Linked DNA regions of Homo sapiens. The protein of the gene in region 1 purifies or fractionates together with the protein of each later gene. This does not show direct contact. Each region holds a gene or a part of one and is shown in the gene's direction. Other genes may lie near its edges.

The links.
Region 2: the proteins of TMEM106A (region 1) and ITGA6 purify together in Homo sapiens (co-immunoprecipitation; 2 studies listed by BioGRID and IntAct, with this or other methods). This does not show direct contact.

What each region holds. Positions count from the first base shown.
Region 1 is NC_000017.11:43,217,708-43,220,541, forward strand, and holds the end of TMEM106A (transmembrane protein 106A), read left to right. Parts: coding exon 1-94; 3' UTR 95-2,334; downstream 2,335-2,834. UniProt on the Homo sapiens protein: Activates macrophages and polarizes them into M1-like macrophages through the activation of the MAPK and NF-kappaB signaling pathway.
Region 2 is NC_000002.12:172,500,586-172,503,772, forward strand, and holds part of ITGA6 (integrin alpha-6 isoform b preproprotein), read left to right. Parts: intron 1-1,186; coding exon 1,187-1,294; 3' UTR 1,295-1,316; intron 1,317-2,722; exon of another isoform or gene 2,723-3,187. UniProt on the Homo sapiens protein: Integrin alpha-6/beta-1 (ITGA6:ITGB1) is a receptor for laminin on platelets. Integrin alpha-6/beta-1 (ITGA6:ITGB1) is present in oocytes and is involved in sperm-egg fusion.

The sequences.
Region 1 (2,834 bases):
CCATTCAGAGCAGCTGGTCTTTCAGAGCTATGAATATGTGGACTGCCGAGGAAACGCATCTGTGCCCCACCAGCTGACCCCTCACCCACCATGACCTGTCTGCTGTCCCTGTACTCCAGGCACCTGCAACCCTGGTCTATATCTCCCACAACTCCCTGGTGACTAAGGAAGGACTACAGAGGCTTTGCCAAAGGAGAAGCCCTGCCTCATCACACCCTTACCTCCCACCCCCTCAGCACAGGAAGCTTGCTTTGAAGTTAACTTCATACACACACACTCATATCCTCCAGTTTCCCCCAGATTCTTTCAGGGGCTGCCATCAGATTCTGCCCTTGGTTAGTTTTTTGTTTTTTTTTTGGTAGAGACAGAGTCTCACTGTTGGTCCAGGTTGGTTTTGAACTCCTGGGCTCAAGCGATCCTCCCTTCTTGGCCTCCCAAAGCACTTGGATTACAGATGTGAGCCTGTGCCTGGCTGGTCTTTCTTGAGGAAAATCTGACCTGGCATTTTCTTGAGGCACCTTAGATTCCCTGGAGTGGCACCTGGCCTTTCTGTACTGAGCACCTGGTCAGTCTGAAGGGGGCATTTCACCCCAGCTCCATCAGGGCTGGCTGTCCCGTCTGAATGTGGAGAGAGCTGTAGTTTTATCTGGCTTTTAAAACATGGACCTGCCGGCTGGGCGCAGTGGCTTACACCTGTAATCCCAGTACTTTGGGAGGCCGAAGTGGGTGGATCACTTGAGGGCAGGAGTTCGTGACCAGCCTGGTCAACATGGTGAAACCTTGTCTCTACTAAAAATACAAAAATTAGCTGGGTGTGGTGGCATGCGCCTGTAATCCCAGCTACTCGGGAGGCTGAGGCAGCAGAATCACTTGAAACCGGAAGGCAGAGGTTGCAGTGAGCCAAGATCGTGCAACTGCACTCCAGCCTGGGCAAAAGAGCAAAACTTTGTCTCAAAAAAAGACTCTTTTCAAGTTTTCTACCCTCTGATAAGAAAATTTGGGGATATCCAGTGCCATCTCCAAGGACTTTCAGGGGATCATAGATGCTTTTCTGTGCCTATCTGCTTTGACCATGTGAAAAAGTGATAGTCTGCTTCTCTCTGGTAACTTGTCTGCCACCCATCTGATAGTAAGATTAGCCAAGGCCCTTTAGCCCTCTGTCCTTTCTGGTTATTGACTGTCCCTGGTTCCTAGGAAGACAGAGTTGTTCTCCAGCTAAAGCGTCTCCTCTCTATAAAGTAGTTTTACTATTCTTTTCATAGCAGGAGCCAAAATAGTAGAGGAGGGGAGAGAGGCACCTGGCACTCTGCGGGCCTGCACAGGAAAAACAGAGCCAAAGACAGAATCATTGTATAAGATATTTATTAAAGGAGAGCCTCTAAGTCCACATCCTGAGCCCATGTGAGTGGACACAGGTAGGTAAAACGGTGGGTCCAGCTGCTGTCATCTGAAAGCCTTCAGGAGATGAAGCTATCAGTATCCAGCTGAAGGCTGCTGGGTTCTGTTCCACCACCACCTTAGCACCAGGGCCCTCTCTGGTCCCAGAGGCCTCATCTCTCCTTGGGCTTTGACAATGTGGAGCAGCACATCAGCAGGGACTGGTCTAGACCCTCCCTTTCCTGTCACTTAGCTGGAGCTAAGCTCCAGATAACCCCTAGGTTCCCACTGGCTCCTAGTAGAAATAGTTTCTGTACTTTAGCAGAACAGGAAGGATATTTGTTCATTAAAGGTGGCTTGGTCTTACAGCTGGGTGCAGTGGTATATACCTGTAGTCCCAGCTACTCAGGAAGCTGAGGTGAGAGGATCTCTAGAGCCCAGGAATTCAAGTTTAACATGAGCAGCAACATTAGCAAGACCCCGTTTAAAAAAAAAAAAAGAGCTGGGCGTAATGGCGCACACCTGTAATCCCACCTACTCAGGAGGCTGAGGCAGGAGAATCACTTGAACCTGGGAGGCAGAGGTTGCAGTGAGCCAAGATCGCACCACTGCACTCCAGCCTGGGCAACAAGGGCGAGACTCTGTCTCAAAAAAAAAAAAAAAAAAAGATGGCTGTCTCTTTATCATTCAGACAGAACGATGAACACAGGTGAGCAGGGAAAGCTAATTTTGAAGTAGGATGCATGGAGAGGGAGAAGTGGTGACAGAACTTGGTAACTAGCTGGCTGGGGGAACGAGGGGAAGGAAGGAGACTGCTGTCTCCAAGCTGAGGTCAGGGTGGTGTTGGCAAGAGCGCAAAAGTCCAGGGAAGCCAGGCTGGAGCTGCTGTGTATAGACTGCCAAATGTGAAGTATTTATATTGTATTCAATAAACTATACTTAAGAGTGTTCAAAAAAGTCTCCTGGGAGTGGGAAGGGAGCTAGTGGATACTCCCTATTTCACAAACTTTTCTTTTTTTTTTTTTTTGAGACAGTTTCGCTCTGTTACCCAGGCTAGAGTGCAATGGCATGATCTTGGCACAGTGCAACCTCTGCCTCCTGTGTTCAAGTGATTCTCGTGCCTCAGACTCCCTGAGTAGTTGGGGTTACAGACATGCACCACCACACCAAATTAATTTTTGTATTTTTAGTAGAGACAGTGTTTTATCATGTTAGCCAGGCTGGTCTCAAACTCCTGGCCTCAAGCGATCTGCCCGCCTCGGCCTCCCAGAGTGCTGGGATTACAGGCATGAGCCACTGCACCTGGCAGAAACTGTTTCCTTAATGTTCTAACGGGCAGCAAGGTTTCTTCCCCAGGCCTCTGAGCCACTGATGACATATCCTGCCCTTCTGTTTTCCGTGAGATTGCTCACAGGACCTCACTCTCCCTCTTGCTCCCATTGTGTATCTCTAAAGTC
Region 2 (3,187 bases), on another chromosome or scaffold:
TGCCACTGCACTCCAGCCTGGGCAACAGAGTGAGACTCTGTCTCAAAAAAAGGAAAGAATGTTGCCAAGTTGGAGGCAGGACCAGGCCTCTTGGCTCCTGGTTTATTCTTCTTCCCACCCTATTTACTAGCACATATTATTGAAAGCTGCCCAACAAAACTCTATACTGATGGAAATGTTCTGGAGCTGCAGCATCCAGTATGGTAGCCATTAGTCATGTGTGGCGGTTAGGCACGTGGAATATGGCTGGTTCACTTGAGGCACAGAGTTTTAAATGTAATTTAAATTAATTTCAATCTGAATAGCCTCACGGAGCCAGCAGCTCCCATATATTGTACAAAGTGAATCTAGGCTTTTACCTTCATGAGTTGCTGGACTAGGAATCAGAGTTTTTCAGGAGATTTTATTTGACCAGGTTAAATTTTATAAAAGACAGTTCCATGGCCTTATGAACTAGATAAAAGTAAATAGGAAAAGTTCTCTATCACTGAACGAAGGAAATTATAGTAGAAAGTGGAATTATACTTTTATACTCATTTAGAGTGACCTAACCTGAGGAGCATTGGGTCCCTACCATTTAAGGGTTTTATGGTGCTCAGAGTTTGGGAAAATGACAGCAATCATTCTTTCATGATGGTGTATTCGAATTTGTATTGTGATTCACCCCACAGATCCAAAGGCCTCAAGTAAATGGCATTTGTTCCATAAAATTTACTGTAAAAGGCAGAAAAATACCCATAGTATATCTATATTTTATTTGGATTTGTGCTTTTATTTAGAGAATTTATTTTCTAACCTTTGTCTCAATAAACTGCCGAAGTCAATCTTTTGCCTCTTTTGGAGTTCATATTCTCCTGCAGGAAGAAACTACCCAAAGCTACAATCAGCAATGTATATACGTTTTCCCTATTAGAATGATTTTTGTCCACAAGATTTCTGTTACAAAGAGAAAAATCAATGAGCTGACTAGTGTCATCCATATAAATATTTGACCAGAGATGTATGGTGAAGGGTGTATTGAATATGACAATGAAACAATGCAGTGGCTGTTCATTGTTGGTTGACTGAAAGTGGTCTGTTTGTAAACAAGCCACTAGTAGAAGGCAGATTAAAATTTGAGATGTTCTGTTGTTTGGCTCTTATACACAAAACTGTAAAATTGACTAAATACCTTGCTTCCTTGTAGTGTGGTTTCTTCAAGAGAAATAAGAAAGATCATTATGATGCCACATATCACAAGGCTGAGATCCATGCTCAGCCATCTGATAAAGAGAGGCTTACTTCTGATGCATAGTATTGATCTACTTCTGTAATTGGTAATTGATCAATGTTTTTTAATTGCTAGCTGTGGGACCCGCTATGGTTGTGGTGGCTAACTTTAAGAACAACAGCTTGCTATGTGTGTCCCATTAACAGATGTTTCCAAATGTCCACACTGGCTTGCCTTGCTTGGATTTGTTTTATTTTATTTCACTTGAAAGCTCAGTTTTTGTTTTTTTTAATGCACAGTCTTTCGTTGCAGGTGAGTTATTTTATGTTCTTGTTAAATATCTACCACAGCAATGAAGAAAATTTGCAATATTTGTACACACAAAAAGAGACTTTTAGCCCTCCATAGTAGCCCAGTTTGCAATGTGTTATTAATTCGGTATGTAGCATTCCACTAGGGAATTCAAAGATGCATAAGAAATCATTCTAGATTTCTTGTCCATTTTGGAATTTTCCACAGATAGAAGCTGTGTCGACCGCCTAATTAACCTGTTGCATGTTGGAAATGTTGTGTTTCTCTTGGTGAGGCTTCCTCACTGTCATCTTTTTGTTCTCTTTGCTATAAAGTGATGGGGAAGGCTTGGAATGCTTTTTACTGTTGCTCAGGAATCGTTTTATGCTAGCTAAGCATGCAACTTCCATTTCCTGCATGTCTCCTACAGGTCAAAGACCATTACAACAAACTGATTATCAGCATGATGGGCTTTTATGGCCAACTTCAGAAGATGATCCCTTACCAAAGTTACCTTCCATCTACAAAATTCTAGTACAAAAAATACCCTGAACAGTTTTTATTGCAATATGTTGTGATGGAGTTTGACCATATTTCATGTATCCAGAGATTTTATCCAACCTTGGATCTCAGTTGATTTTAAATTCAAGTTTCTCTTATTTGGAAATACATGGAAATAGGAATTGCTAGTGATCCCTTTCACCATTTACGTGGGCATGAGAGGACAGAATTACTCCTGTAATCCTTTCCATGGCACTATCACAGTGAATCACAACATTGCCATTCAGCTTTACATATTACCCTTAATTTCCCTCTTTGTTTAAATGGGGTAGACAGCAGTCATATTTTGTAATAGATAGGTACTTTGGCTTTTTTTTCTTTTTTTTTGCACAGAATAATAAATGAATCCATGTAGAAATGACCTGGAACAAAACATCTTGGTCCATTTTGCCTATTGATTTAGTGATAACTATACATATAATTTTATCTTGCTCCATGGCATTTTTATAACATAACATCATTCAACATAAATGTCCTGTTACTATTGACGTCACACAATAAACACATTAACAGTTCTATCAATATCCTCATTCTTCTAAACTGCATTTTAAAGTTGAAAACACCTTTTTTTAAAAAAAGTAAATATATTTCATTTAAAAATTTAATCTCAATTCAAATTTTTTCAGATATATTCTCAGTAAAAATATACTTTGGATCAGATTGACTATTTAAATGAATTTTATATATATATATAAACACACACATTAACAGTTTAAAGGTAAATGTATTTTTGCAAAAGAAGAGAAATTAGGGAGTGCTCTGAAATTCAGTGTAGTGATGCACTTCTGAAGTCCTATGCAGCACATGATTTTTATTGCAGGAAACAGTTACTATGTGATTAATGAAATAGCTTAATTAGAAGCACAATAGCAAATCCAGGCAACATAAATGACCTCCTGGCTAATGAGAGAAGTGATATGTGTACTAGAGCCTCAGAGGAGAGAAAAAGATTATAAAGTTGACCTGTTGGAACACTGGCATATTCAAATAGTAATTTGTAAAATACTTGTGACATGATTTGCATTTTATTAGTGGGAAAGGGGCATGAAATAATCTTTGGTTTATGCCATTTAAAAATTATTCTTAATCTAATCTGATAATCAGATATTTTACATATCATATTGT